Linked DNA regions of Homo sapiens. The protein of the gene in region 3 interacts with the protein of the main gene of each other region in a pairwise test. Each region holds a gene or a part of one and is shown on either strand. Other genes may lie near its edges. The genes, in order: RORB, WWOX, TSGA10IP and BICD2.

Region 1 (8,631 bases), on a different chromosome or scaffold from region 3:
TAATAAACAGCCCACAGATCTTTCAAGAAGGAACCCTGAAACCCACACCTCGGCTCACTTCTTTCTCACCTAGTGATGGGCCCAATTAAAGGTCCTCCCTTTCGCCTTCAGAAGTTATTCCTTTCAGTAATGAAATCTACGGAGAAGCCTCTCTAGAACTTCTGTGGTACCCTCTCACAGACAAAGGATGAAAGGCTTTGTGCGCCACCAAATACAACCTCCTCCGCCCCAGGCTAGAGTAAGCAACTGCGCTGTGTCCGGGACTCAGTTCAGCCGTGGGGCAGGACAAGGACGTCAAAGATCAGGGACTCTTAACCCCTTTCTTTCCCCGTAGCTTCCCTGGGGATAGTCTCTTAAATGCCCTAGGCGGGGGAGGAGTAGGGGGTGGGAATAGGTTTGCCGGATTGGCCCCGAGGGAGACCACTGAATCCCAGATCACCTTTCCGTCGCTCAAAGCGCCCTGATTCAGGACAGTTGTCAGCTGCAAACTGTGGAGCCCAGGCGCTAACTAGGACCACCTGGGAATGGAAAGCGCGCGCGTGTGGATGAGGGAAATGCAGTGGGCCCACCGTAAAGCCCAGGTCAAAAATGGCCCCTCTCCCAACATAGGGTGCTTAGTAGCCCTGCACGAGCGAAAGCTGATTCTTTTCCCGCTTTCACTTCTCAAGTTCACTCTCAAGTTCAACTCCCAACTCCACAAGACGTCAGAGTAGCCTGGATCTTTTCTCAATCCCATTCTTACGGAACAGCCTCTCATACTGTGGTAGGGCACTGTCCGGGGAAAATATGAAGAGGTAGTAAGGAAAGACACTAGGGGTCAGGAAAGGGCAACCAGGAATGGCGATAGAGTGACCTGGTCATCTTTTAAGCTTACATTTTCTCCAGCGCATTCCCCTAAGGCCGCCTGAGAGCTGCCTCAAGTTAGAAGTTGTAAGGGGTCCTAGGGCGCCTGGCGAGGCTGGCGCCCTCTTTGATAGGTCTGTGGGCTTAAACTGGTTTTCTCAAGGTGAGCATGAGGACCAGCGCCTGGCTTTCAATCCTTCCAGCTTCTGGAGTCCTCAAAGCGACCGCCGTGGCGAACCAGGACAGTCATCTGCAAACTGCTCCTTCAGGAGATGCTAGATCAAGCTACAACCCATCCCCACCCCGCGCCGCACTCCTTCTACGATGTAAGGAGTGAGCGGATTTTATGCCCTAGGTCCTAGTGCTGGGTCCGAGCTGAGGTGGCGCATAGTTTACGACGTTCAGAAAGTATGAACCCAGCCACAGGGGGAAAGTTAGAAGGGAAGAAGGGGAGGGACGAACTGGCAGCTCTGGACTGGGACGGGGGAAACCGAAAGAATGGATGGGATGGTGAGATGGGCTAGAAAAAGAAAAACAAAAGACCGGGCGTCTCTTACTAAGCCAAGGTTCTCTACTCTCCAATTGCCCAAGTATAGTTTCTTGAAAGAATTTAGACAGTGGAGCGTGTAACCAACCCCCAACCGGGACAATCAGCTGGAGCCAGCGCGCACACACACGGGTGCCCCACTCCCAGCGAGCCGGCCAATCAAGACCATCCCATCAGGACGTCCTTGTTTCTTATCTACAGTCAACCCCCTCCCCCATGGACAGTCTCTCTCCGTTCCTTCTTCTCCTTCCCTTTCCTGACACATCCCAGCGTCCAGCCAGCAAACCCTTGAGTCCAGGCTCGGGGCTCACCGGGTGCGGGAGGGAGTGGGAGTGAGACCCGCTGCCTCCTGGGGTGCTCCTCTAGGGGCGTAGGGGGACTGGGTGGGAGAGGATCACTTTCAGTGGAAGGAGGAGACCAGTGATTGCATCCCAACTCTCCCAAGTGCTCCCTGCCTAGACCACCTCTCTCCGGGTCTGGGATGCAAGAAGGTCTGGAGCTGGCCGTTACTAACTTTCTGTTGTCAAGACCCAGGGGTACGTGCGAAGGATAGAGAAGAGCCCCCGATTAACCGCTGTGTGGCCAGGAAGAGGGACTGGGAGTGGGGGTGGGTGCCCAGAGCTTGCACAGATCCCCATGTCAAGCGGACACCCGCCTGGCTCTTCAGTAAAAGAGTGAAGAAAGGCCGAGCACAGCGCGAAGGAAACCTGAGGTCTCCGGCAAGGCAGGAGAGGAGACCAAGTGACTCCCCGAAACCCACCCTCCAGCCCTTCGAGAGGCCCAGAGTCCAGCCGGAGCAAGCGTAACGCTACAGTCCCTGGCGCGCATCCCTGCAGACCCCAGCTCGCCCCGGGGTCCCGCCGCCGCCGCCGCCACCGCCTGCGACTGCGAGGGTCCTGGCCCGAGGGTGCACCAGCACCTCCTTCCACTACCGGCCCTTTATCTGACAAAAGAGCCGGAGCCCATGACTCTCCGACTGTGAGCAGTGTGGCCTTTCCAAGCCTCCAGAACTTTCTCATTACAACTTTTCCGGGGTCGCACTACTCCCTGGGCCGCGCGGGCTCGGGCACGAGGACCTGGCCAGGGCGCAGCGCCGGCACGAAGGCGCGCGCCGCAGAACTGTTTCCTCAGCCGCGTGCCGGGGAACTAACTGTTTCCTCAGCCGCGTCCAGCCTCGCAGCACTGCTCTTCTGCTTGCTACTCCAGCGAAGGGACATGCCTGCTGGCCAGGACGCTTAGTGGGCCTCGTAACCTGGCGAGTGTGTGCCCGCGCGTGTCCACCCTGCCCCCGGCCGGTGCGCCCCGCGCGCCCAAACCCGGCCGGCGACCACTGCGCGCCGGGCGCTTCCAAACTGCTCCTGTCCAGAGGCATCCCTCTTTCGGCTTTCTCCATCCCGCGTCCGCTTCCGCACCCGAGAGCGACAAGCAAAAAAGATTCAGTGCAACTCAAGGACTGGTAAGAACCAACTAGCCTGTCTCCCCTCTCCAAAAAAGCGCCCTCCCGCGTCCCTCCAGAACTCCCGAAAGACATCAACACCTTCCCGCAACTTTCTACGCCCAGGCCATTTGCAGCCCCACCTGCGAGAGCGAATTCGGGGAACTGCGCCTGGGCAACCTCTTTCCCTTTCTGCTGGGTGCCCTCCCCTCCCCCATCTCCCCGTCTGGCTGGAGTTGGCCGGACTCGGGGAGCCTCGGTGCCCGCAGACTCGCTTACCTCGCATGGTGTGGCCGCTCTCCCGCTCCGCGTAGTCATGAAGCTGCTCCCAGCCCGAACCCCGGAGAGCCCAAAAATCCCGCTCAGCACGAGTGAAGAAGGTGGTCGGCGAAGAGCTGCTCTGCCGAGAAAACCATCCCTTTAGGCGGACGCCGTGGCTGCAGGGTGACGTTTGCCGCCGCCGCCGCTATGTTAACAGTTTTGATGTTGGTGGTGACTGTTTTGATGATTGTTTGTTTGTTTGTTTGTTTTCAGGAAGGGTGAAAAAAAAATGTTCTGGCTGTCTGGTGCCTGGGTTTTGTTTTGGTTTTGTTTTTCTTTTTCTTTCTCTCCAATGTGCTTGCTTTTTAAAAAATGCCACCGCCTCCGGCTCAGAAGATTTCTTTTGTGATCACTTGGACTGAGGAGGAGGAGGAAGGGCAGCAGCAGGAGGAGGAGTTGGTGGTGGTTTTGTTAGTTACAAAGAAGAGGGAGAAGGAACAAGGGGGAAAAAAGGAAACAGAAAGAAAAGAAAGAAAGGCGGTGTGGATGGCAGAGCATGTGCGTTTTCACATGACATCTGTGCCTGTTAGCGGATCCACAATGTGAATTTTCACTGTTCAGTTACAGGGAGGAAGGGAGCAGCGAGAGAGAAAGAGAGGGGAGAGATGGAGAGAGAGCGCTGAGAGGGGCTTATACGCGAGGGCGGGCTTGGCCGCGACTTCCAGGCCCCGCCTGCTGTCAGCGCAGCCGCCAATCAGAGCCCAGCAGCGCCTGGAGAGGCTGGGACCGCGGGGAGGGGACGTGGTGGAGGCGGGGGGTGGGGCGGGGGCTGGGGACCAGGGAGTCCGAGGTGGCCGGGGCTGCGACGGGGAATTCGAGACTGTCCGAACTGGGCAGAGAAGAAGGGCCGACCGGGAGAGTCGGGCAGATCCGCAGGTGACAGGCACTTCCGACTCCAGCAGAGAAGGGGACACTGATCACGGAAAACCTTCGGAGGCAAGAGACGCGGGGCTCCCCGGGTTTCACGTTCGGTCCCTGTCTCGCAACCCCCGCGGGCCCGGCAGAGTTAGTTTTGAATTTATGGCAGCGCTTTGCCGAGCGCTATTTGGGTAAACTTCGGTCTCCGGCGGGGGTTTCCGTGGGCAGGTGGTTTGGGTGTTGGTGGTAGAATAATGCAAACCCACTTTCATCACTTTTAGCACAACTAAAATGCAGTCCCATGGAAGTAGCTGTCCCCTTCCTTTAAAAACGTCCGTCAGATGCTCCCTGACCCTCTTCTAAAAAAAAAAAAAAAAGAAAGAAAGAAAGAAAAAAACGTGTATATGTTCTTTTGTCTGGGAAATTGATTTTTATTAGCATTTGGAGACTCCCCTGGCGATGGACTACAGGACTGAAGGAGAACAGCTCAAATTGGCGGTGTAGCCACCTTACTAATTCAAGAGAAATGGCTGTTGCTAGAAGGTGTGATTGCAGGGTGCTCTTTAGAAAGGTTTTAGAAGGAAGACATTGTTAACTTTAGTTAGAGGCGATTGGTAACTGAACATAGATAAACTTACTTGTATTCCTTAGGTGAAAATTGTCATCTATGACCATTTATTTGTATTTTGATAAAAATCTAATACATATATCCAAACTGTTCCTTTGCAAGTTTTTCCAACTCAGTTGACAAAATAAGCATATAGATGATTACATCTACTTCCTTCCCAATAGTAGGGAACTTCTTAAATACTTGAGTTAATTGAACACCCTAAAAGATTGGGAGGTGAAAATATTTGCCTCATTCACTCAGTCTTGAGGCTGGGAGATGTCTACTCATTAGCATACCTGTTGGCACAGCAGGCCTCATCATCATTTAAGTATCCAAATAATTTGATTTTTGACTGGTATTTATTCATGATATGTCATGTAACACAAAGTACAATGTAGAATTGGCAGTTATTTAGTTAATTAGGTCGCTCTACACTGCCAAGTAGTTTTTTCCTTCCTGATTAAATGAAAAATGAATTATCTGCTGAATTTTCACCAGTATTAAATTGACGTAGCCCTGCTATATGCCATCCCATTTGCAAACCAATGTGTAATTTAGGAAAATTTTAGTATTAAGAGTGAAAGTTGATTGAGTCATTAATTAAATGAAATGAACAAAAGGAAGTTACTGTTTAGAATAGTTATTCCTTTATAAATATCTTTCTCCTAGATTTGTAATTGACACAGTAGTTAATCTTTTAAGATAATATTTAAGGCTCCCTGGTTTTATCATTTTTAATCAAGTAAAATATATTCATCATAACTATGTTAAAGCTGTACAAAGTTATGCCTAATTTAGTTGCTTCATTAAAAATTACTGAATATAAAATAGTCAAGAAACAAATTGTGACTATATCATTTTAATTTTGTTGCTTCAAGCAGAGACACAAGAATATTGAAAATTCCAAAGGCTTTGTAAACATTGTCTAATTATTATTGTTGTTGTTATCATTTTAGATTTCTATTTCTCTTTAGAGTGAACAGGAATTTCAAAATCCAAAAATTTAAACATTTATGTAATTTTAACTTTCTAAACATTTATTGAATTCTGAATTTTTTTTTAATGCTGCAATATCTGTAATCCTTGAAAAAGGTAGTCAACACGTGTATAAAAAGTATTTACCCCCCCATACATTTTTATATTCTCTTTATTTTGTGGTTTCAGCAAGGCATAATTTTGCTTAGAACATATTTCTTAATTCCTTCTGAGTATTTTTGGAGAAATTATTAATTAGAAGACTATATTATTTCATTTTTCAAAACTATGTATATAATCTCTATATATGGTGATACAAAAGTATGTATTTTCTCTTTAAATGCTAATCATTGGTTATAATGTGGCGGCCTGGGACATTTTGGATCTTTCTAAAAATTTAAAAACTGGTTTGTTGAATATTTCTAATAATTTTCACATTTATTTCACTGAATGGAGCCCATTTATTTAAAATAAATATTAAGAATTTGAATGAAAGAAGTCAGTATTTTCTAAGAACTCACAAAGCACATATATATAATCTGATGGTTTTGTAACCTATCTGCCAGCAAATAATCATATTTCAAGTGGCATAATAATAATACATTACTGTAATGTCCTAGCTCATATGAAGTACGGTATCAGTAATTTTATTTGAATGATTATGTCTGGTTTCCTATAAGCTTGAAACTCTGCTTTTCACTCTGGGCCTGAAGGATTTTCTAAGTTGACAGTTGCATGTTGATTAATTTAAATGACAATCAGTCACATAGCACTGTCCTCAATCTCAAGAATTGACATCAGATTCCACTTAGGCTTGCCTGCTTACCTGTTTTTCTGACACATTAGCACCCCTCAGGTTGAGCTGTACCACAGAATAGGAATGACAACAAATATCCTGAAAGAGGCAAAGTTTTAATATAAGCCAACCAGGTAGGGTGACCATGGCATTTAGGATTATTTCAATCCTAAAAGGCTTAAACAGGAAGTCATAGTTCATGTTATTCTGAGCTGATAAGTCAGAATATTCACTGGTCAGGGAATATTTTAAATAATTAAGACTCTTGAATGGACATTAGCAATACTGATAACAATGTTACTTTTAGGAATGACTGAAAGATTGGTTATGTTTAACTCTATTTAGGGAGCTGTGTGGCTGTGAAAATTGGGAAAGAGATATAAAGCTGCTATTAAATATTAGAAAAGCCAGAAAAATGTAAGAACTTTTAACATTCAAACCTTTTACAAGTGGGAAGGGAAGTACTGAGTTCCCTGTTGCTGAAGGCATCCAAAAAAGGGTTGAATGAAAGGTTCTGTTAGAGATGCTCTAGTATACAGATTTCTATACTAGGGTAGAAATTGTCTAGATTACCTCCAAGATCCTCTGTAGCTCTAAGTGTACAGTTGGCCTTTATGTCCATGGGTTCCACAACTGTGGATTCAACCAAGAGCAGAGCAAAAATAAATTGTGTCTGTACTGAACATGTACAGATATTTTTCTTGTCATTGTTCCCTAAACAATACAGTATAATAATTATTTATATAGTGTTGACATTGGCATTATAAGTAATCTAGAGATGATGCAAAGTATATAGGAAGATGTGCATAGGTTACATGCAAATACTACACACCATTTTATAGCAGAAACTTGAATATCTGTGGGTTTTGGTATCGGTGGGAGGTCCTGGAACCAATCCCCCGTGCATACCAAGGGATGCCTGCATTCACATGGACTAAAGGTTGCTACCACTGCCCCAGCAGGCATCAGAGCCACATTTCCTACCTGAGAATGCAAAATTCATGACAACAGGAGCCAGGATTTCCCTAGAGTTTGTAAGAGCTCCTGGTACTTTATGGGTGCTTGATCATTATTGGTGGAGTGAATGCTTTCTAACCTTTCAGCCACTGAATATGAATCACAAATGGAGTGAAGACCTGAATAAGATCCTTCTTTCTCAGTTTCTATTGAATGGGAAGAGGAGAGTGGGGAGAATCTGCATTTTAAACTCTCCTAATTTGGGGAAGCAAAAAATAATGGTTGAGATTGGTTATATAGTCATAAAAGGAAGCTAAAATTTAGTTATTTTCATATTTATTACTATTCTTAATTAATTTATTTATTCTTTGAAAGGAAGTCTCGCTGGAGGCTGGAGTGCAGTGGCACAGTCTCAGCTCACTGCAGCCTCTACCTCTTGGGTTCAAGTGATTCTCCTGCCTCAGCCTCCTGAGTAGCTGGGATTACAGGTGACCACCACCATGCTTGGCTAATTTTTGTATTTTAGTAGAGACGGGGTTTCACCATGTTGGCCACACTGTTCTCAAACTCCTGACCTCAAGTGATCTGCCTGCCTCAGCCTCCGAAAGTGCTGAGATGACAGACGTGAGCCACCACACCCAGCCCTATTCTCAATTTTATTCCCAGGTACTGAGTCTTCTTCATAATCTTTGAGTTCTTTAAGTTCTGCTTCATTTTAAAGTGTAGATGCAAGTTCAATAAGTTTTCAAAATAAAAAAAAGAAAGCAAATATTAAAATAGAGCATGTAATTTTGAAATAAATTGGAAAAGGTGATAAGGGCCAAAGCATGAATTAACCCCAGTATGTGGGAGAGGTAAGGCTAGCTTTGGAACAAAGACAAAACATACAGGTCAGAAAAAACAAGAGCCAACATTTATTGGATGAATCACATGATTTCTCAACCTATCTAATTTCTATTTCTTACAAGAGTCTACATGTTATACATTATATCTCTTCCTCCTCCCCATCTTTTAAAAAATTATTTTATGGCTAAAAGAACAGAGGCTTAAAAAAGTTAACTCACCTAAGATCACAAATCGTAAAATGCTGGATCCAAGATTCAAACCCAGGTGTAGCCACTAAAACGTGTTTCGTGAGTGCAGGAACTTTCTTCATTTTATTTTATTTTTTCAGTGCTCAATCCACAGAATCTAGAGTCTCTTGCCTGATAAATAGTAGATGTTTAAAATACACTTGTGAATAAATAAATGGACATTTAAACCCTCGTCCACCACACAGTATTACATAT
Region 2 (6,214 bases), on a different chromosome or scaffold from region 3:
TTTATATATCTCATAGTTAAGTCTACTTTAAGACAGGAATCTCCTCTTTCTTTTAAATGAGCATGCATTTTAAAATAGAAAAACCTGAAAGCAAAACACGGTGTAACATGTGTCCCTGTGAGTATTATATTAGAGTACTAACCAATGCATTACAAATATCAATATGTGGGTGCTTTTTTTTTCTTTACCATATATTGTTTATCAGAAACCTCTGTACCCTTTCCTTTAAAGGAGTCAATATGCATTTGTATTCTGTGCTGACAACTATAAATTGATGGCTAGCAGTTATCAAATGAATGTTGATGAAAAGCAGCTACTTAACATTTTCATCCCAACACCGAGTTTTGGAAGGATGGATAATTTAGATCTGAGGGCCTCAACTATAAATAAACAGCAACTGCTTTCTAAATCCCACCTTTCTGTAGTTGAAGATTGTGCTGCAAATCTGACAGATGATTTTTGAAAGAGAATGATGAATCCTTATTACCAAGATACTCTTAATCCCAAACAAGAGTCCTGGGTAATTTTACATATACTCTCAAGATTGATTGCACAGTTCTCCTCTGGCAGCTCACAAATGTTTGACTAGATCGGAAATGGCATTCGGGCATGATTAAAAAGATTCTTCTGGGCTTCCCAGAAATTCTCAGTCCTGTGTCGTCAACAACCTAACTCATTGCCATTGCTGCGGGATAGACACCTCCCCCGTTTCCCATGATTAGCAACCATATACAACCTACAGGCTTCTGATAAATGATTGATTCTCAAAAAAAAAAAATCGTTTAGGGGAACCCATAGCTCCAGCCAGTGTTTGTATGTCAAGGTATTATTATTTATCACAATGGATCAGTAAGCATTGATGACAACTGGCAAGGTATTGCTTCAGATATTTTATAACGGAGTTGTTAACATTATTTCCTTTAGATGGCTCTTTCATCTTTTCTGCATTATGAACTGATGCCCCAAAAGGTGGTATGAATGAAAGTCATCTGATGGTGATTAAAGTGCTCTTTAAATTTTTTTTTTAATCAGTTTAAGAATGCTTTCTCTTTTATTGGCAGTACCTGCTTGTTTACTATTGAGATTTCACTAATGTGCCTCAGTCTTATTCTGATGATATGTAGGCCGAAAAGCTGGTGAGCCAAAAATGAGAACCTGTTACTAAACTGTCATCACATCTGATCATATTAAGATGTCACTCAGAGGTTGCCATTGGTACGGCTGAAAATTCTCCAAGAGACCAAAGGTGTGGTGTGTATGGGACCAACAAGATATTGTTACTGCTTAATTGTCCAGCAAGGGAGGAAAGTAGAGTGAGTACCCATGAGCACCAAGCATGAATCTGAGAAGGAGAATTTGCCAAAGGTGGACGATTGATTTTTGGAGTAGAGAAGGTCGTCTTTGCTTTCGGGTGCCCCTCCTGTGTACTGTGTTCTACAAAGCCAGAGCCACTTGTGATGGAATTTAGATGGTAAATCACCCCAAGCCTAGTGGCAAAGGAATCAAAGCCATCTCCTGATAAAAAGTTAGGCTTTTCAAAAAGGTATGGCTCTCAGCATTGTAGCCAAATGTAGGTTGGCATGAAATGAAGCCAGTTGTAATTGCCTTTAGATTCCGTGGAAGGAAAAGGTAGGTCCCCAGCTCCTGCAACAATGGCATTCTGAATCAATGGGACTGCAGAATTTCTTAGCAAAAATACCATTCCAGTAATGCAAGAGTGCAACGTGGTATCATTACAGTAGGTCATAGTGGCAAAATATTTTATCAGGTTAGGAAGAATTCTGCTTTTTGCTTTCCCAAACGGACTGCTTTGGTCTTTCCTCACGCTTGGCAGAACAGTGAAAGGCCAGTCTGTCATGACGTTTGAATGCTGAATAGTATAACCATTGTGGCATAGAGGGCGGGAGGCTGGACTTGAAATGGGTGAGCTGGATTCTCCCACCACTCGGGAGTTAATGGCAAGTCACTTGGCCACTCTGGTCGTTTTGGCAGCTGCAAGGTAAAATGAAAATATATGACAGATATCTGGAAGTTGATACAAAACACCATCTCCACCAGAACTCTAAGATTCCAGGCCAAAATAATACTTGGCTTGAGTTAGCTGGATGAGCATCTCAATTCTCCAATTTGTCTTTAGAGGCACTTCTGCTTCCCTTTTCCCCACATGGGATGCAGAAGAGCCAGATAAACCCCTTGAAGTTGTTTAGATAAATGTGCCAGGTGCTAAGCTCAGGGTTATTAGGAATAATAATTCAGTGAAAGGAAATTTGGATGACATGAACTCATTTCCATTAGACTTGAGCCACACAAATCAATGGGAAAAGAAACAGCTGAATCCAGGATAATATCTGGCTATTTGGAGTGGGCATGATAATGGAGGGAGATTGGGGAGGTAACAAACCAGCTACTATTAAGTTCAAGTCATGTCAGTTATTCAAATTCAGGACCAGTGGAACTTGTCCAGTATCATCAAGCAGCCAGTTATTATCAAAACCCAAGTCTTTGTCTCACTCACGGTCCACACCCCGCCCAGAGTCGTATCACTTGACTGCATTTGACCATTCAGTTTTCAGACCAACTCCATTGTTACTAGATATCCTGACACTGAAGAAGCTAAAACCAAACAACAATGACAACAACAAACCCAAGTCTGCCTTATGGCAGATTCTTCACGTCGTAACACCTTCCTTGGGACCCTATTTCTCAGTATGGACCTGACTCTCCCAGGGATCCTAGAATGCAAGCATAGTGATTGCAAACCAGACCATTTGAGGGAAACTCCTCCAGTAAGCACCCTGCATGGTCACAATGTAAACCCTGCAGGGGCAGAAAAATGATAAGCTTTGGGTCGGGTCGGAAAGCCATTTCCCCCACAATCAAAGTTCCTTAGTGTTTTCCTTGTGGGGGCGAGCTTATCTTCAGTTACCTTTTCCGGTCCTCTCTTGCAACCCCTCTCCCTCTCATCAGCTGAAAATTAGTGGATGCAGCTAGGGCTCTGAAACACATAAATAATCATAAGATGCCAGATAAACTGTATTGGTTTTAAATTAGAGACGTGCCGACCATGTCTCCCTCTGAACAGCAGCCTATTATTTTTAATTATGGCTTGCAAAGCAAAGTGATTTCTTGCCCTCTTTATAGCATCCCTGACAGTATTCTGTCAGTTTGGATGATATGATGCCTCATCACTGCACACGTCCCTAGCCACAGCCGCAACTGTTACTCAAAAGGTGAATGAAAGTGATCAGCTGCACTCTTTGCAACTTACATTTTGAAGTGGGCTGGGAGGAAATGTACCCCCTTACCTGTGGTCCCATTGTAAATCTGGGTCAAATATGACATTTAGAAAAAGGTTTTCATGGGATCTGGATGAATTAATGTGTTATGTGTTTGTGCTAAGTATGAATGTATGGTGAGGAGTGTGTGTGTGTGTGTGTGTGTGCATTAAATGTTTTAACACAACATTGCCAACCCTTCCCCTAGCAGCACCGTGGGCAAAGCATAAAGGGATGATCTGGCAGCAGCCCCACTTGGGTTTTCTACCTGATGGACCACAATTAAGAGTGGTTGGTTTGTCAGACAGAAGGTTCTACAAACGATTTGGTATCGAATTACATTATACATGGAGAAGTTGAGGGGTTGGATGAATTTGTTCTTGCACGTTCAGAAGGATACCATCTTTTTCTCTGTGTGGAAGAGGCGCCTGCCACGACGTATTGATATGTGTATTTATTTTCCAAGCCTGTCCCTGTATGAGGTGTCAAAAGTTACACCAGCTTTACAAGCGGAGTTTATGAACTCGTTTTTCCAGGATAGTCACATTATACTTTTTACAGTCATGTGCTTTCAGCCCAGTACCCTTTGCTATGCCAAGATCCAGCTGAAACTGAACCAGGTGGGGGAGGCCTGCTAATGCCCAGGCAGTCGAAATGACGCCATCTCATCACTCCTTTTCTTAAAATTTTTTTTTGTCTTTCTTCTTGGATTTCCAGCAACAGGGAGCTGCCACCACCGTGTACTGTGCTGCTGTCCCAGAACTGGAGGGTCTGGGAGGGATGTACTTCAACAACTGCTGCCGCTGCATGCCCTCACCAGAAGCTCAGAGCGAAGAGACGGCCCGGACCCTGTGGGCGCTCAGCGAGAGGCTGATCCAAGAACGGCTTGGCAGCCAGTCCGGCTAAGTGGAGCTCAGAGCGGATGGGCACACACACCCGCCCTGTGTGTGTCCCCTCACGCAAGTGCCAGGGCTGGGCCCCTTCCAAATGTCCCTCCAACACAGATCCGCAAGAGTAAAGGAAATAAGAGCAGTCACAACAGAGTGAAAAATCTTAAGTACCAATGGGAAGCAGGGAATTCCTGGGGTAAAGTATCACTTTTCTGGGGCTGGGCTAGGCATAGGTCTCTTTGCTTTCTGGTGGTGGCCTGTTTGAAAGTAAAAACCTGCTTGGTGTGTAGGTTCCGTATCTCCCTGGAGAAGCACCAGCAATTCTCTTTCTTTTACTGTTATAGAATAGCCTGAGGTCCCCTCGTCCCATCCAGCTACCACCACGGCCACCACTGCAGCCGGGGGCTGGCCTTCTCCTACTTAGGGAAGAAAAAGCAAGTGTTCACTGCTCCTTGCTGCATTGATCCAGGAGATAATTGTTTCATTCATCCTGACCAAGACTGAGCCAGCTTAGCAACTGCTGGGGAGACAAATCTCAGAACCTTGTCCCAGCCAGTGAGGATGACAGTGACACCCAGAGGGAGTAGAATACGCAGAACTACCAGGTGGCAAAGTACTTGTCATAGACTCCTTTGCTAATGCTATGCAAAAAATTCTTTAGAGATTATAACAAATTTTTCAAATCATTCCTTAGATACCTTGAAAGGCAGGAAGGGAAGCGTATATACTTAAGAATACACAGGATATTTTGGGGGGCAGAGAATAAAACGTTAGTTAATCCCTTTGTCTGTCAATCACAGTCTCAGTTCTCTTGCTTTCACATTGTACTTAAACCTCCTGCTGTGCCTCGCATCCTATGCTTAATAAAAGAACATGCTTGAATATCATCACCTGAAGTTTGTATTGTTTCTTTAAATGTTTGTTTCAGTTTGTTTTTGTTTTTCATTTTTTAGAAAAGAAATCTAGAGGAAAAATAAAGCGCTTCTAATAAAGCGCTTCTCGTAGATGCCAGGAAAACACGATTCTTGTTTCTTCTCTGAGTGAGTTTGTGTTTTGTTTTTGTGCTTTGTGGCTGTCCGTGGGCCAAGTTGTCTCACGCGATTAGCATGCCAGCATATTTTCTGTTAAAGAAAGAAAAAAGAAAAATGACTATTGTTTCATTTCACCTTAAGATGTTTTGTTATTACTTACTTACAGTGAGTTATTTTAGTCCTCAATGGTCTGCTCCCCTGCAATTAGCAAGTACTTAGTGATTAGCGGGTATCTCTATGTTTGAGAATGGGAGCTGTGCAGAAGCTCTTATCTGCGCATCCCATCTCATGGACACCATGATTTCCAGCCCGTTCCAGCAAGCACATGAGAAAGTCCACTCTGGCAAGACGGAGAAAATGCTTCTGCTGAAATACCAGGAAGGTGTGGAGGCTGGGTGTCATTGTTCCCCCTCCTGATCATGGCAGCTTCAGGCCAGACAATGTCTTGAACTTCTGTGCCTCTGCATCTGTGGTGCAGAGCAGTCGAACAAACAAACACCATTGCCCTCCAGTGGCCCATAGCCTTGCCACATCCTCCCATCTGGCTATAGTCTTCCTTACGTAATCCTTATTATCACAGGACCTTTGAAACTATGAATCAGATAATGTCACTTTTCAGACATTATTGTCATTTGCAAAAGCAGCCGTCAGAACTCCACTCTCAGAATCTACACCTGGAGGGGATCACCCCTCCCATATGACCTCTGACTTTGGCCATGTGACTGGCCTTGGCCAATTTGGAAAGTGCTTTGCACTGGGGCTTGCCTTTCCTTGTTGATCTTTGGAACCCTGCAACTTCCATCATAGGGAACGGCTCCTGGGCTAGCCTGCTGGATGATGAGAGACACGTAGTCACTCCCAGAACCGGCATCCAGCAGTTAGTTAGTTAGACATGTAAGTGAGGCCATCCCAGACTATCCAGCCCCAGCTGTGCCAATTCAGAGGAGAAGAAACTGCACATTTCACTCACAGCAATGCAAAAGATAGTAAAAGTTTATTTTAAGCCACTAAGTTTCAG
Region 3 (8,700 bases):
ACTTTGTCTCAAAAAAACAATGACAGGAGCCCTGAGCAGAAAGGGAAGTGGTGCCTATGGGTGTCAGCCCCGTCCATCATCTCAGAATGGAAGGAGACACATCCCTCCCTCCCACAGGACAACCTCTTTTGTGCCTGCCCTTCCTAGGCAGGACAGAGTCTCCTGTTCCGCTCAGACAGCGAAGTTCATAGGCTGTAATGGCTGAGAGACTGCATGGGAGATACCTACTTATGCCTTAGCCCTCTCAAATAGAAAGTAAAAGGAGTGAGGTTGAATCACTCTTTTTGCTGCACCTGCCACTTGGAGTTCTGAACCTTACACTTCCTGCCTCACTGTGAAAACAAAACACTTGGCTGGGCGCGGTGGCTCACGCCTGTAATCCCAAAACTCTGGGAGGCCGAGGCAGCCAGATCACTTGAGGTCAGGAGTCTGAGACAGCTGGGGCAATATGGTGAAACCCTGTCTCTACCAAAAATACAAAAAAATTAGCCAGGTGTGGTGGCGCGCACCTGTGGTCCCAGCTACTCAGGTTGCTGAGGCAGGAGAATTGCTTGAGCCCGGGAGATGGAGGTTTCAGTGAACTGAGATCACACCACTGCACTCCAGCCTGGGCAACAGAGCAAGATTGGGAAGGAGAAAGGATCCCCCTAAACATTGGCCCAAGCAGTCCCCCAAAACACACTTGACCTTTCAGAGCCTCTGTTTCCAAATCTGTAAAATTGGGGTGATTAAGACTGAGCCTCGGCCGGGCGCGGTGGCTCACGCCTGTAATCCTAGCACTTTGGGAGGCTGAGGCGGGCGGATCAGCTGAGGTCGGGAGTTCAAGACCAGCCTGACCAACATGGAGAAACCCTGTCTGTACTAAAAATACAAAATTAGCCGGGCGTGGAGGCGCATGCCTGTAATCCCAGCTACTCGGAAGGCTGAGGCAGGAGAATTGCTTGAACCCGGGAGGCAGAGGTTGCGGTGAGCCGAGATCGCGCCATTGCACTCCAGCTTGGGCAACAAGAGCGAAACTCTGTCTCAAAAAAAAAAAAAAAAAAAGACTGAGCCTCAAAGAGTAGGTGATAAGAACCCCGCTGAGCCGTCAGTGGCCTTAAGGCAGGGCAGGACCCTCACCCCACTTGCCACGGACCAAAGGAGACAGGGTGCAGAAAAAGATGCCCTGCGCCCGCTGCACCCAGGAGGTGCTCAAATCAATGGCACTGGTTTTGGTCATATTTATTTGATTTATTTGTGTTACATGTGTCATTGGTTTGGGCTCTTGGGGGAAGGTCCTGGTGCCTTTCGTCTAAAAGCGGAGGATTTGAGTGCTCAGGCAGGGCAGCATCGTGGCTGGAACCCAATTCTGCTGCCCATGCATGACCTTTGACAAATTATTGAAGATCTCTGAGCCTCAGGTTCCTCACCGGTGGGGTTATGCAGGTGGAGATACCAAGGTAGGATAGTAAGGTGAGCGGGCCGTACTGACTTTTCCCCTTGTATGAAGCCCCAGGGGCTCCTTTCGCAGGAGCTCTGCAGCCCCTGTGCCCTCGTGCATCAGCACCTAACTCTTTTTTTTTTTTTTGAAACGGAGTCTTTCTCTGTCACCCAGGCTGGAGTGCAATGGTGCAGTCTCGGCTCACTGCAACCTCCGCCTCCCGGGTTCAAGTGATTCTCCCGCCTCAGCCTCCCAAGTAGCTGGGACTACAGTCGCGCGCCACTACGCCCAGCTAATTTTTGTATATATATTTTTTAGTATAGACGGGGTTTCATTACGTTGGCCAGGCTGGTCTCGAAATCCTGACCTCAGGTGATCCACTTACCTCGGCTTCCCAAAGTGTTGGGATTACAGGTGTGAGCCACGGCGTACAGCCGAGTACCTAACTCTTTTGCAAGATAAGCAGTCTTAGGGGATACCAGATGGCTACAAGTTCCCTCATACCTAGCACAGCCCAGGAAAAAAAAAACAAAAGCCCCTTATTCATAATGTAGCTTCCCCGATCTCCAGCCAATCAGCACCAAAAGCCCAAGAAGCTATTAGCTACAAATTCCTGCCTTGGAGGGAGCTAAGGACTTCTCGGGGTTCCGCATACACAGCTAGGCTCAAGGTTTAGCTTATAGCAACATTTTCCTCGTTTTGATGGTAAAAAAACACACCCCTAGGTAGAGATTGTATATGCTAATGTTACATGTGATGCGTGTTGGAGCATGCAGATGCTGAGCGCATGCGCCCACCACAGGTCCACCTTTGCATACCTGACCTCACCAGTATTTTGTGACTAGGTATAAACAACTTCCATAAAAGGAATTCCTCTTAAGGCACAAGCTGCCGTCTCTCCCTCTGAGCAGTCCTCAGGGTGGGCTTTTTTTTTTTTTTTTGAGATGGAGTTTTTGCTCTGTCGCCCAGGCTGGAGTGTAGTGGCTCAATTTCGGCTCACTGCAACCTCCATCTCCCGGGTTCAAGCAATTCTCCTGCCTCAGCCTCCCGAATAGCTAGGATTACAGGTATGTGCCACCGCACCTGGCTACTTTTTGTATTTTTAGTAGAGATGAGGTTTCACCATGTTGGTCAGGGTGGCCTTTGCTTTGCAATAAACTTTTTCTTTTGTGCGGCCAAGGGAAGAACCTGACCTGGCCCACCAGCAGCAATACTCCCTGCTTCACGGACCTGTTAGGAGTCCAAAAACGTTTGCCCACAAATCTGCTTATTAGGAAAATGGTCACGGCCAGGTGCAGTGTCTCACACCTGTAATCCCAGCACTTTGGGAGGCTGAGGCGGGTGGATCACGAGGTCAGGAGATCGAGACTATCCTGGCTAACACGGTGAAACCCCGTCTCTACTAAAAATACAAAAAAAAAAAAAAATTAGCCGGGCGTGGTGGCGGGCGCCTGTAGTCTCAGCTACTCGGGAGACTGAGGCAGGAGAATGGCGTGAAGCTGGGAGGCGGAGATTGCAGTGAGCCGAGATCGCGCCACTGCACTCCAGCCTGGGCGACAGAGCGAGACTCCGTCTCAAAAAAAAAAAAAAAGGAAAATGGTCACAATATAGGAAGAGAACAAAACGCGACTCTTCAGCTGACTGTGAACAATGGTTGTCTCCCAGAGTGGGGTCACACGGCTGTTCACCTTCTCCAGGCATTATTTCTGTAATCTTTGAAATTTTATAACAAGCATGTCTGGCATTGGAAATCAGAAAATGAAGATTTGAAAGTGTGATCATACATGTAGAATATTTTAACCTTGACCATTCAACAGCTGCAGAGATTGTCATTATTAACTGGGTGGCCTTCGACAGACCCCTTCTCCCCATGCCTCAGCGTCCTTATCTGGAAACGCGGTGAAGTGGCCTGGTTAGCCCCAGGGAAGGCGAGGGCTGGTGCTCCTCGGTCCTGTAGACTGAGACCTGACACGGCCTCCCTGCCCTCTCCCAACCAGGCCTCCCGAAGCCCAGGCTCCCTACCTCAGCTCCTCCAGCTTGCGCTGGGCCGCCCCAGGGCCCCGGCTCCCTCTGGGTGCGTAGGCTGCCAGGCAGTGGGCCACCTGCCGCTGTACATGCTGTGTCCGGGCCCGCCGCAGCTCGGCCTGCTGCCGCTCCTCCTGCCGCTGCCGCTCCCAGGCCTGCAGCAGGCTCCTTGGGTGAGAAAGGGAAGGGGAATGAGAGGTTCACGGGCAGCAGGAGCCTCACGGAGGGCCAGGGGCTGGATAAGGGAATATGGAAGCCTGTGGGGAGGGGCTGCAGTGTCCAGAGCCAGTGTCCTGGGAGTAGGGTTTGTCATGGAAGTCCATGACAGAGACTGCCCTGGAGGCTCAGCCCTCGGTCCCAGCTCAAGGCCTTTCCCTACTCTTTCTAGAAGTCTCCTGCTTCCAGGCCAGGCACGGTGGTTCATGCCTGTAATCCCAGCACTTTGGGAGGTGGAGGCAGGCGGATCACCTGAGGTCAGGAGTTTGAGACCAGCTTGGTCATCATGGTGAAACCCTGTTTCTACTAAAAATGCCAAAATTAGCCAGGCGTGGTGGCATATGCCTGTAATCCCAGCCACTCAGTAGGCTGAGGTGGGAGAATTGTTTGAACCAGGGAAGCAGAGGTTGTAGTGAGCCGAGACCACGCCATTGTACTCCAGCCTGGGCAACAAGAGCAAAACTCCATCTCAAAAAAAAAAAAAAAAAGAAAGAAAGAAAAAAGAAATGAAGGGTGCTTTGGAAGAATTAATATTGTTAAAATGTCCATATTATCCAAAGCAATTTACAGATTCAATGCAAGCCTATCAAAATTCCAATGACATTTTTCACAGAAATAGAAAAAACAATTTTAAATTAATATAGAACCACAAAATACTCCAAACAGCAAAAGCAATCTTGAGCCAAAAAAAAAGGCCAGGCATGGTGGCTCACACCTGTAACCCCAGCACTTTGGGGCTGATGCAGGTGGATCGCTTGAGCCCAGGAGTTTGAGACCAGCTTGAGCAACATGGTATATATACACAATGGTATATATTGTGTATATATTGTGTATAAAAGGTGGTCTATATATACAATGGCATTCTTCAGCCTTAAACCCCATCTGTACTGAACATACAAAAAATTAGCCAGGCATGGTGGACCAGACCTGTAGTCCTAGCTACTCGGGAGGTTAAGGTGGGAGAATCACCTGAGCCCAGGAAGTCAAGACTGCAGTGAGCCATGATTGAGCCACTGCATTCCAGCCTGGGTGACAGATTGAGACTCTGCCACACACACACAGACACATACACACACACACACCACACACACACACACACACAAAAGAAAGCTTAACGACACTTGTCTGGGCAATGGTTTTTTGGCTATGACCCAGAAAGCACAGGCAACAAAAGCTAAAATAGACAAATGAAGTTGCATCAAACTGAAAAGCTTCTGCACAGCAATGGCAACAATCAACAGAGATGACATACAGAATGGGAGAAAATATTTGCAAACCATACATCTGAAAAGGGGTTAATATCCAAAATATGTGAACTCAAGTAACTCAGTAACAAGAAAGCAAATAACTCAAAAAATGGGCAAAGGCCAGGCGCGACGGCTGTTGCCTGAAATCCCAGCACTTTGGGAGGCCAAGGCGGGCAGATCATTTGAGGTCTGGAGTTCGAGACTAGTCTGGCCAACATGGTGAAACCCTGTCTCTACTAAAAAAATACAAAAAAATTAGGCAGACCTCGTGATGTACGTCTGTAATCCCAGCTACTCAGGAGGCTGAGGCAAGAGAATCACTTGAACCTGGGAGGGGGAGGTTGCAGTGAGCCAAGATTATGCCACTGCACTCCATCCTGGGTGACGAAGTGAGGCTCCATCTCAAAAAAAAAAAAAAGGCAAAGAGTCAGGGCATGGTGACTCACACCTGTAATCTCAACACTTTGGGAGGTGGAGGCAGCAGGATCACCTGAAGCCAGGGGTTGAGACCAGCCTGGGCCACATAGCAAGACACCTATCTCTACAAATAAAAAGTTAAAAAATAAATCAGCTGGATGTGGTGGCATGCACCTGTAATCCCAGCTACTCAGGAGGCTGAGGTGAGAGGGTCACTTGTGCCCAGGAATTCAAAGCTGCAGTGAGCTATGATCGTGGCACTGCACTCTAGCCTGGGCGACAGAGCGAGACTCCATCTCAAAATAATAATAATAATAATAATAATAATAATAATAAAATAAGCAAATAACCCAAATAGACATTTCTCAAAAAAAGACATACAAATGTCTTTTTCATCACTAATCACTAATCATCTGGGAAATGCAAAATAAAATGATAATAAGATATCACCTCACGCCTGTTAGAATGACTATTACCAAAATGATGAAAGATAAGGGTTGGTGATGATGTGGAGAAAAGGGAATCTCTGTTTACTGTTGGTGGGAATATAAATTAGTACAGTCATTATAGAAAACAATATCAAGGTTCCCCAAAAAATTACAAGTAGAACTACTATGTGATCCAGCAACCCACTTCTGGGTACATATTCAAAGGAAATGAAATTAGTATGTTGAAGAGGTAGCTGTACTCCTATGTTCATTGCAGGAATATTCACAGTAGCAAAGATATGAGATCAACCTAAGATTCCATCAACAGAAGAATGGATAAAGAAAAGGTGGTATATATACACAATGGCATTCTTCAGCCTTAAAAAGAAGAAAATCCCATCATTTGCAACAACATGCATAAACCTGGAGGACACTATGTTAAGTGAAATAAGCCAGGCACAGGAAAACAAATACCATATAATCTCCCTTATGTGCCAAATCTTAAAAAAGTCAAACTCAGCATAATGGGACCCCATCTCTACCAAAATTTTAAAAATTAGCCAGCAGCCAGGTGTGGTGGCTCACGCCTGTAATCCCAGCACCTTGGGAGGCTGAGGCGGGTGGATCACGAGGTCAGGATAGCGAGACCATCCTGGCTAACACAGTGAAACCCCATCTCTACTAAAAATACAAAAACTTAGCTGGGTGTGGTGGCGGGTGCCTGTAGTCCCAGCTACTCAGGAGGCTGAGGCAGGAGAATGGCGTGAACCCGGGAGGCGGAGCTTGCAGTGAGCTGAGATCGCGCCACTGCACTCCAGCCTGGGCAACAGTGAGACAAGACTCCATCTCAGAAAAAAAAAAAAAAATTAGCCAGGCATGGTGGCTCATGACTGCAGTCCTAGAGCTCAGGAGGCTGAAGTGGGAGGATCACTTGAGCCCTGGAAGTCAAGGATGCAGTGAGCCATGATTGTGCCACTGCACTGCAGCCTGGGCAACACAGCAAGACCCTGTCTCTAAATAAATAAATAAATAAATAAAGTCAAACTCATAGAAGCAGAGAGTAGAATGGTGGTTACCAAGTCCTCACTGGGTTTGTGGGGAGAAGAAGGGAGATGTTGGTCAAAGGATAAGAAATTTCAGTTAGAGAGGAGAAATAAGTTCAAGAGATCTATTGTATGATCTGGTGTCTGTAGTTAAAAGCAATGTATTGTATACTTAAAAATCAATAAAAGAGTAGATTTTAAGTGTTCTCACTACAAAAAAAAAAATCAAGTAAGACCGGGAGTGGTGGCTCACGCCTGTGATCCCCGCACTTTGGGAGGCTGAGGCGGGCAGATCATGAGGTCTGGAGTTCGAAACCAGCCTGGCCAATATGGTGAAACCCCATCTCTATTAAAAATACAAAAATTAGCCAGGTGTGGTGGCAGGCACCGGTAATCCCAGCCATTTGGGATGCTGAGGCATGAGAATTGCTTGAACCCTGGAGACGGAGGTTGCAGTGAACTGAGATCACACCACAGCACTCCAGCCTGGGAACAGAGCAAGACTCTGTCTCAAAAAAAAAAAAAAAAAAAAACCGAGGTAATGCATATGTTAATTAGTTTGATTTAGACCTTCAACAATATAAACATATTTCAAAACCTCATGTTGTACACCATAAATACAATTTTTATTTATCAATTACATAAAATAAATTTTAAAAAAAGAATTGTGGCTGGGCGCAGTGGCTCATGCCTATAATCCCAGCACTTTGGGAGGCCGAGGCGGGCAGATCACGAGGTCAGGAGTTCAAGACCAGCCTGGCCAACATAGTAAAACCCCGTCTGTACTAAAAATACAAAAATTAGCCAGGCGTGGTGGTGGGCTCCTGTAGTCCCAGCTACTTGGGAGGCTGAGGCAGGAGAATCACTTGAACCTGGGAGTCGGAGGTTGCAGTGAGCCAAGACTGTGCCACTGCACTCCAGCCTGGGCAACAGAGTGAGACTCCATCTCAAAAAAAAAAAAAATTGTGGGGTGCTATAAGAATGCTGAATGAACTCTCCCCTGCCCTCACATGCCTCCTGTCACCAGTCACCATGGCCTATTGAACCAGCCTCTAAGTGTCTCTTAAATGGATCCCCTCCCTCCATCCACAGGGCCTCTTGGTTCCTCACCTCAGTGTTGCCAACAGTCTCCTCACAGCCTCCAGTCTCCCCTTCAGCTCCCACTGTCTCCTTTGCTTTAGAAACAGAGGCTCGCTCTGTTGTCCAGACTAAAATTCAGTGATGTCATCATGGCTCACTGCAGCCTTGATCTCCTGGGCTCAAGAGATCCTCCTGACTCAGCCTCTGGAGTAGCTGGGGCTACAGACACTTTCCACCAAGCCAGGCTAATCTTTTTTTTTTCCTTTGTAGAGACAGGGGTCTAGCTATGTTGACCAGGCTGGGTTTTTTGTTCGTTTGTTTGTTCGTTTGAGACAGAGTCTCACTCTGTCACCCAGGCTGGAGTGCAGTGCTGCAATCTCAGCTCACTGCAACCTCCGCCTCCCAGGTTCAAGTGATTCTCATGTCTCAGCCTCCTGAGTAGCTGGGACTCCAGGCACACACCACCATACTTGGATAATTTTTTATATTTTCAGTAGAGACAGGGTTTCGCCATGTTGCCCAGGCTGGTCTCGAACTCTTGAGCTCAGACAATCCACACGCCTTGGCCTCCCAAAGTGCTAGGATTATAGGCGTGAGCCACCACGCCCGGCCCCTTAACTTCTTTTTTAGAGACAGTGTCTCACTCTGTTGCCCATGCTGAATGCAATGGTGGGATCATAGCTCACTGCAGTCTTGATCTCCTGAACTCAAGAGATCCTCCTACCTCAGCCTCCTGAGTAGCTGGGACTACAAGCACGTGTCACCATGCCCAGCTAATTCCAAGTCTTTTAATAGTTATATCCTAAGGGCCCATGAGTAGATAA
Region 4 (8,700 bases), on a different chromosome or scaffold from region 3:
AGAGTGCCCGCAGGGAGGGTCTGGGTGGGTGGTCCCTGGCACCAGAGCCTGTTGGAGTCCTGGGTACCCATGGACAGCCATTGGTACATGGCACAGGCTCTACATCTGGAAATGGGACTGTGGTGTCCGTCCATGAATCCGTCCAAGTCCGTGCATGACTTGTGAACATGAAGTCAGAGGAACCAGCTTGGCTCTTGGGCCCTGATAGGGGCAAAGGCCACAGGACCAGCTGCTCATGGCCCTGACACTAAGGCCCTGGAGTTGTGGAGGACTGGGGAGCCCAGGGGAACGATGTGGCCAAAGCAGGATTTGGGAAGGTTGCTGTGGTGCCTGGAACCTGTGTAGTTTGAGCCCAGCAGGAGGAGGAGAGCCAGGAGTCTCCATCCACTGGGGCAGGTGGGAGGAGAGTCTCGCTGGCTTGAACAGGAGGCTCAGGGAAGGTTGAGTGAGCACCTGAGTGTCTTTTCTCACTGACTGGCACATATTTTAATTGAGCCCTGCCAGGGCCTCGGTGTCTGTGGAACCTGAGGAAACAGTGTGAGCAAAGCCTCATTCTCCTAGAAGGCATGTGGCAGATATCAGGGGAGAGCAGTACCCCGTGCCTGTCCCTGGGGCAGGGGCATGTTCACTGTGGTGCTGAGCCAAGGGCAGGAGGAGTGTCAGGAGAGTCCTGCAGGCCTGGGTGGGGCCCTGAAGGAGGCAGGGTCCAGCTTGGGTTTGGTGGCTACACGGGGAGTGGGCTGTGGGGACAAAAGTGAGGCTGAGACGACTGTCTTGGGGGCAAGAGGGGCCAGTGCCTTCTGAGGAAGGATGAGGCCCCATCACCAAGATGGAGGTGGGATGGTCCCTGGGGACTGCAAGTGGAGCTGGAAGTTGGCACGTGAGCTGCAGTCCTCCTGGCCGTGGCCTTTGAGGGTCAGCCCCAGGTTCTCATTGGGAATGGCTGGAGGAGTGGAGCATGGGTCGGTTGAGAATGGGCTGATACTGGCTTTGCCTTTCACTGAGCCTTGGGGCCTGGGCAAGGCCTTATCTTTAGTCCTGGCCTCAGTTTCCCCATCTGTAAACCGGCAGTCTCTGAAGCCCGTTGTAGAGGATGCCCCACAGGTCTTTCACCCCACATTGTGGGAGCACTTATGGACCCTTGTTCCTGACACAGGAGCACCACCCTCTGCAGCAGATAATCTTACGGGAGGTCAGCAGGGCATAGGCCCTGAGGGTATGCAGTGATTAGGGCTGCTGCTGTTGGCTTAGCATTCCAGTACTGAAGGATGCTGCCCTCGGGGTCAGCAGCGGAGTGAGGGGTCAGAGATCGCTGAGGCCCTAGGGGCCCAGGGAGGAGCTTGGCTTAGACTCAGGGTGGGGAGTCTCAGATCCTGAAGCGGCAGTACATGATCTCATTTCCTCTCACAAGGAGCCCTCTGGTCGGTGGGAGGAGGGGCTGTGTGTATGGAGAGATGTATCCTTGGCTGCCCCAGCTGCCATCTGTCTGGCCCGTCTATTCCTGAAAAGCGTGTGCAGGTGCTGTCTCCCCAGCCCAGCACATTCTGCCCCTTCTCTCTTCCAAGAGGCCTATCTCTGGTGGCAGAGGCCAAAGAGGGCTGGGTGACCCTGCTGGCTTCAGGTAAGACTGGAAATGAGCACAGCAAGTTAAAGATGCTGCAGGTCTTGTGGGGAAGAGAGGATTTCTGTGGTTCCTGTTTGTGCTTCAGGAGGAAATCCTGAGACTCCCTGCACACCCCTCAGCCTTCCCTGTCTCTCCTGAGGGTCCCCACCTTGGTCCCTGGGTCTGCTGTGTCCCCCATGACTGTGTCCCTGCCCTGGGTTGCTGCAGAGCTGTGGGAACCATCCCAGGTCTTCGCCTTGGGTACCTGGTTCGGGTGGAGCATCTCTAGGACTGACCTTGTCTCACCACCACCAGTCCCAGTCATGCATAGCTCTTGTCTTCTGCTGCCTGCTGTTCTGCTGGTCTGAGCCACTGTGCCAAGCTTCTCTGTGCCCACCCCCAGCGTGGCTTTCCCCAGTCACTGCCCAAGGCTCACACCCCATGGGTCAGAAAGGGTACATTTGACGATAAAACAGCCTTCATTGTATCCTTTGACCCACCACCCTGCTACCCACAACAGCCCCTCCCCTTTTTTCCTCCCTTGGGTCAACTGGTTGTCTGTCCCCCTCCACACCCCAACACACCATGAGGACCTGTGAAGCTTTACAGTAACAAACATATTTGGCATGTGTTGGACAGTTCTGATTGCCTCAGACCTGGTCCTTCTGGTGACCCTACTGGTATCTCGTCAGATGTGAAGAAACAGAGGTTTGCAAGGTTCCATCATGTGCCTAAGGTGTCCTGGCTGGTAGGGGGTGAGGTGCTTCTCAGATCCTGACTCTAACCGCTGTGTATGTGTGGGCCCTACATGTGGGCAGCCCCTCCAGCTTCTCTCCTGCTAGTGAGAGCATCTTTCCTGCCTGGGCCCCTGGGAGGTGGGTAAGCTTCTGAGGACTGGCCTGGATTGGGCCTTGGTGGGGATGTGGCTCCATTTCCCAGATGGGGAATCAGAGGCCCAGAGAGCCACAGGAGGCCTGGGGTCAGAGCTGGGTCTCATACACACACCAAGATCTTTCTTCATATTTGCCCCAAGAAGGAGTAGGGTGAAGGGGCTGGCCTAGGCCATCAAGGCAGAGATGAGAGTTTCCTGGTGTTGAGGTTGTCTGGTGGGGACAGGAGAGAGGGCAGCCGACCCCCTGCACAGTGGCTCCTTGAAACAGGCAATTGTCACACCCTGCTTGCTGATGAGCAGTCTGAGGTGTGGGGATCCCACAAAGGGGAGTTGAGATGGGACCCTGGTGGTCAGCTACAGGCCTGTGCTCCCACCTCCTTCATTTGGGCTGCCCAGTCACACGCAGCAGAGCTTGTCCCCTGTACTTCTTTGGGCTGACATCAGACAGGCTCACTGGGAGAAGGTGCTTACTTGAGGGAAAACTAAACCCCATGGCGACCAGTCAGCCTGTTTGAGCCCTTGGCAATTGGCCGTGTGCTGGATGGAGGTGCTAGGTGGCAGGCCACATGAGCCTGGCTGCCTACGCCCAGTAGTGTGGGCATGGAAGCACAGTGTTTGCGTCCTACTACAGCATCAGCAGAGATGGTGCCATCATCACCCATGACATGGTATGGCCAGGCCAGCATTTGACCTGGGTGTGCCTCTGTGTTCTGGGTTTGGCAGTGGTGCAAGGACAGAACTCCTAGTACACCTTGCCTGGGCCAGGTGATGAAGGACCCTGAGGACTCACATGAGCACTGCCAAGGGAACAGCAGTCTCGTGTGTGCCTCTGGGGGACCCTAATGGTATGAGGCATCTGGCCAGGCTCTCTGCTTCAGTCTTTAGTTGGGCATGTCACTATCTCCCTGCCCAGGCACATGGAAGCTTCTGGGCTCTCACTTCCCACTGCCTGGAGCACCTTCTAGGTTTGTTGATCTTGACTGGCAGGCCTGGGAGAGTTGGTGGGACTCAGACCTTCCCCTCAGCTTCCACTCCGCCTGAGGAGCCGGCTGGGTGGCCGCGTTGAATCAAGTGGCACATGTTTGCACACCTGCTGCAGACCACTTGCTTGCCAGTTAGCAAGGAAAAAGCAGGAACTGGGCAAACCTTTCTGGCAGAGAGGTACCCAAGTCTCCAGCTGGGGTGTGGAGAGCCTGGGTGTGACTTGGCTTGTGCAGCTCCCCTAAGCACACTCCTGGGGGGTGCTGCACTCTCACTAGCAGGAGAGAGGCTGGAGAGCCTGCCCACTCCCTATCCACCCCCCGTGTAGCCACTGTGGGGCCCGGCCCTGGTGATGGCTGTGCTGGTGCTGCTTTCTCCCGCTTCGTCCCAGCATGCACCTCGCTCACTTTCTCCTCTGGTACAAGGCTTTGCCAGGCCTTCTCTTCCTCCCTGTGTGGTATCTCTGTTTCTTTTGGTGTCAGCTTTCTGTCACTTCCTTGGGTCACTTATAATGAGAGGGCCATGTCTGCGTCCATTTGCTGTAGGTTTTAAATGTAATCTTCATTGTAAATAGTAAGCATTTGTCAGTAGTACTTGCTGTATATTGTTGACTCTCCTCCCCTCTCTGTTGCATTCCTTTTTTCCTTTGTTTTGGGAGGGATGTCCTATTTCATTTTGCCAGTATGATCGTTTTGTGTGTACTTGCATGGGATCTTGGAATCTTGTCTATAAAGTATGTTCCATTCAGATGAGTGCACACATGTGACCAGGAGAAACCATAGCATAAGCCAAGAGAACAGTGTGAGAGGTGGGCGAAGCTATGGGGCCCGCAAGATGGACAGGGCTTCTGGCCGAGAGTCCAAGAGGGCTTTGGAGCAGGGGTGGTGATGGTCTGGGGAGCCAGGCCTTTGCAGATACACAGGGAGGCAGCTGGGTCAGCAGAGTACAGGGAGGGGATAGAGAGTTTGTCAAGGGGATGATTTTGCCCCTGGGGGACATTGGCAACGTCTGGAGAGATTTTTCAGTTGTCACAATGGAGGAGGCAGCCGTGTCTGGTGGCCAGAGGTCAGGGAGCTGCTAGACATATGATGTACAGGCCGGCTCCCACCACAAAGAAGAAACGTCCCTGAATGTTGCTAGGGCTGCGGCTGAGGGGCCCAGGTCCCTGGCACATGGCAGCAAGTTGGAAATTCTGTCTTGATTGCATCCTGTTTGCCCCAACCCTGCACTAGCCTCTCCCATGACATCTCTTGGCTCCTTATGGGCAACTTAGAGCCTGAACTAATTTTTAACAGCTTTATTCAGGTGATTTACATCTCATATAGTTCACCCACATAAGGTGTACAACTCAGTGTATTTTATGATAGTCACATATATGTGCCCCATTCCACAATCTTAGAACAGTTCATTGCTCCAAAAAGAAAACCCATTTCAGTCACTCCCCATCCCCCTCCCCAGCTCCTGGCAGCCACTAACCTACTTTGTGTCTCTATGAATTTGCCTATTCTGGATATTTCATGGAAATGGAATCATATAATGCATGGCCTCTCGTGACAGGCCTTCTTTCACTCAGCAGAATGTGTTCACGGGTCATTCATGTTGTAGCATGTGTCAGTACGTCATTCCTTATTGTGGCTGAACAACATTCCATTGTGTGGAGAGACCACATTTTGTTTATTCATTCATCAGTCAATGGGCACTTGGGCTGCTTCCACCTTTTGGCAAAATGAACGCTGCTGCTGTGAACATGTGTGGACCGGTTTCTGTGTGGGCATGTGTACATTTCTCTGGGGTAGACCCTCTGTGTTTAACAGTTGCAGCACCTGCAGGCTGTTTGCCAGAGCACTATACCATTTATATGCCCACCTGCGCACTACTGTGTACATGCCCAATAATAGAAGGCAGGAACTACTTTTAACCCCATTTTAATTTAAAGATGAAGAAACCAAGGGTCGGAGCAGGCAGTCACGGGTTCCCAGGTGAGAAGGGCTGAGGGAATTTACTCTGGAACCTCTGCAGTCCGCTGTGCACTCTGGCATACTGCTCTGGGCTCCCTCTCCTCTCCAGGCAGTCACACTGGCACCTGCAGGCCAGGGCTCTTGAGTTCTGGCTGTATGGCTGGCCATGGCGTGCCTGGCTGCACTGAGCCCCTCTCGTGCCCTGTGGAGGCTGCTCATACCTGCCTTTCCCTCTCCCCCAACAGATCAACCAGAATGTGGAGATCCAGCGTGGCCGCCTGCGGGATGACATCAAGGAGTACAAATTCCGGGAAGCTCGTCTGCTGCAGGACTACTCGGAACTGGAGGAGGAGAACATCAGCCTGCAGAAGCAAGTGTCTGTGCTCAGACAGAACCAGGTGAGTCTTGGGCCTGTGGGGTGGAGGTGGCACGTGGGTTAACTGGGCCTTGAGGACCTCTTGCTCAGCCCCTCTCCCTGTTGGGAAGGGGTTCCTGTCTTATTCCACACACCCGAGGCCCAGGGCCAGCTTTACCACTGTGGAGGCAGGGGTATACTTGGTGGGACCCAGACTCTCCAAAAGATGAAACTCTGGCTGCAGTGTTTGCTGACATTGGCCAGGCTGAGGTGTCCCAGCCAACAAAAATGAAAACAAAAATCTGAGAGGTAATGAAGAGGTTACACCAGAAAACCCCAGATTGGACTTTGAGACTCCCCCATCAGGTGCTGACCATGAGGCCTGCAATATTCCTGTGTCTCTGCCTGTGACAGGGACAAGGAAGGTCCTCTCTGTCTGTGACGGGGATGAACAGGAACCCCTCTGTCTCTAATGGGGTCTCAGAGGGACCCCTGACAGGGACGAGTAGGGTCTCTGCCTGTGACAGAGATGAATAAGGAGGGTCCCTTCTCTTTGTGATGTGACTAAATTGTCATGTGCTCTGCTGTTCTGCCACTCAAGGCCTGAACTTGCTCTTCTCTCTGCAAGAGCCACACTCCTGCATGGTGGGGAATGGGAGTCTTTTCTCTCCCAAAACTTTCCCCAGAATGCCATGGATGTCTTCCTTGCTTTCCTCAAATCCTCTACCACCAAAATCCTCTGAGTCTCACCATCAGGGAATGTGGTATTTATGCCCGGAGGAGGAAGCTCATGTGTTTATGCAGAGCTCCTAGCCTGGTCCTTCTGTGACAGCTCGAGCTCATTAACAGTCTTAGCCACTGTCTACATTGTAAGTACCATTTGGTCATTGGTGCTGCTGTTGGCAGAGCCCAGCGCATGGTGGCCTTAGGAGAAGGGAAACTGAGGCTTGAGGCGACCCTGTCCTCAGGTTGGCGCTTAGTGGAGTCTGACTCTCTCTCCCTCTCTGGGATTCCTCACCTCCGCATTTGTGGTGCTGGGACTGAGGGCTCCATGCCCACCTCCTGTGAGCACACCTTGGATGTGGTAATGGGTGTCCCTTCCGACCCAAGACCCACAGAGATGTGCTCAGCACTTCCTGTTACTGGTTTGTTTCTTATTTTTTTCTCCAAATATTACAGAAAAATAAGAAATAGTTTTAGCAATTGCCCACAAATTCTGAGCCTCCACATCAGGCATCAGTTTCTATCTGCTTTTTCCTTGCCCACCTGCAGATACAATTTTCATGTAGACAAGACTTTGATGTTGCTTTTCCCACCTACCTTCGAGCTCCTCCAGGTCTGGGTGTCATGTGCATGTGGAGGTTTAGTGGTTGAGATGTTCTGCCTTGCGGGGAGTTTCTGTTCCTTCATTTTGAACTATGATTAGAAGTCATGATCATAGCACACATTGAAATATATTTTTATGTATCTTAAGATATTTAGTTAACTGTTAATGTTAATTAAATAACTTTATAGAATTTTTAATCAGCATGCACTTGGTAATATTTGTGAATGACTTAATACAAGGTTGGCAGCCTTCTATGGATGGATGTGTGTTGTTCTTGGTGCATCTCCACACGTACAGTCCTGGCTTGGGGCCACCTCAGACATTTGTGCTCCCCTTGCTGTGTCTGCTGGTCCCAGCGGTGGGTGGGCTGGGCTGAGCATTTCATTGCATTCGCATCTCATGCCCTGGAACCTTCTTAGCATCCACATCTCTGAGCAGAGGAAGCAGTCTTGGCCTGGACGGGCTGCCACCCTTCCCAGGATGGCACCTCACCTGGCGCTTCATCTTTTGCTTCATAGTGGCCGGAGTTGGTGTGCTGGTGTGTTTTCTTCATTTATGGGGCCTGAAAGGAGCTTCCACATTGCATTGATGCAAGAGCGTTGACTTCTCTTCCCAGGTGGAGTTTGAGGGCCTCAAGCATGAGATCAAGCGTCTGGAGGAGGAGACCGAGTACCTCAACAGCCAGCTGGAGGATGCCATCCGCCTCAAGGAGATCTCAGAGCGGCAGCTGGAGGAGGCGCTGGAGACCCTGAAGACGGAGCGCGAACAGAAGAACAGCCTGCGCAAGGAGCTGTCACACTACATGAGCATCAATGACTCCTTCTACACCAGCCACCTGCATGTCTCGCTGGATGGCCTCAAGTTCAGTGACGATGCTGCCGAGCCCAACAACGATGCCGAGGCCCTGGTCAATGGCTTTGAGCACGGCGGCCTGGCCAAGCTGCCACTGGACAACAAGACCTCCACGCCCAAGAAGGAGGGCCTCGCACCGCCCTCCCCCAGCCTCGTCTCCGACCTACTCAGTGAGCTCAACATCTCTGAGATCCAGAAGCTGAAGCAGCAGCTGATGCAGGTGAGCAGGCAGTGGGGCCTTCGGCACGCTGTCCCCACTCCAGGTCTGCAGGGCTCCCCGAGCAGTGCTTACCTGACACTCTGCTGATGTTAACTTTCCCTTTTCCTTACGTTGATTTTATCTCCTGCATCATTACGGTAAATGGAACTCCAGGAGCACACATAGAGGAGTCTCAGAGAAGTGGTTTCCTGGCACTGCAGCACCCACATTGCTCCCCTGTTAACTACGTGGTGTCAGGGTGAAGTGATGAGACACTGGCCCACATGTGATCCCTGCACGCAGGCCAGGTGTCAGGGGCCCACCATGGTCATGCTTGGGCTCATCCCCTGGGACATGGATCCCTGTTGATCCAAGGCAACAGAGTCCTGTCCTCCGAAGCAGAGGGCTAGGGTGCTAATATTCCCGACTACACACCCAGCCAGCCTAGAGCTCCACTTTCTTAGCCCAGATCCCCTGTAGCATGGTTGGGGAAAGAGCCTGCGTTGAGGGTGACCACCATTACTGGTGACGGT

The links.
Region 1: the proteins of TSGA10IP (region 3) and RORB interact in binary tests that used the Homo sapiens proteins (3 or more experiments, as listed by UniProt).
Region 2: the proteins of TSGA10IP (region 3) and WWOX interact in binary tests that used the Homo sapiens proteins (3 or more experiments, as listed by UniProt).
Region 4: the proteins of TSGA10IP (region 3) and BICD2 interact in binary tests that used the Homo sapiens proteins (3 or more experiments, as listed by UniProt).

What each region holds. Positions count from the first base shown.
Region 1 is NC_000009.12:74,492,457-74,501,087, reverse strand, and holds the start of RORB (nuclear receptor ROR-beta), read right to left. Parts: upstream 3,754-8,631; 5' UTR 3,112-3,753; coding exon 3,105-3,111; intron 2,847-3,104; exon of another isoform or gene 2,535-2,846; intron 1-2,534. UniProt on the Homo sapiens protein: Nuclear receptor that binds DNA as a monomer to ROR response elements (RORE) containing a single core motif half-site 5'-AGGTCA-3' preceded by a short A-T-rich sequence.
Region 2 is NC_000016.10:79,207,616-79,213,829, forward strand, and holds the end of WWOX (WW domain-containing oxidoreductase), read left to right. Parts: exon of another isoform or gene 1-3,992; coding exon 3,993-4,181; 3' UTR 4,182-5,052; downstream 5,053-6,214. UniProt on the Homo sapiens protein: Putative oxidoreductase. Acts as a tumor suppressor and plays a role in apoptosis. Required for normal bone development. May function synergistically with p53/TP53 to control genotoxic stress-induced cell death.
Region 3 is NC_000011.10:65,948,480-65,957,179, reverse strand, and holds part of TSGA10IP (testis-specific protein 10-interacting protein), read right to left. Parts: intron 3,614-8,700; coding exon 3,443-3,613; intron 1-3,442.
Region 4 is NC_000009.12:92,719,788-92,728,487, reverse strand, and holds part of BICD2 (protein bicaudal D homolog 2), read left to right. Parts: intron 1-5,679; coding exon 5,680-5,832; intron 5,833-7,732; coding exon 7,733-8,188; intron 8,189-8,700. UniProt on the Homo sapiens protein: Acts as an adapter protein linking the dynein motor complex to various cargos and converts dynein from a non-processive to a highly processive motor in the presence of dynactin.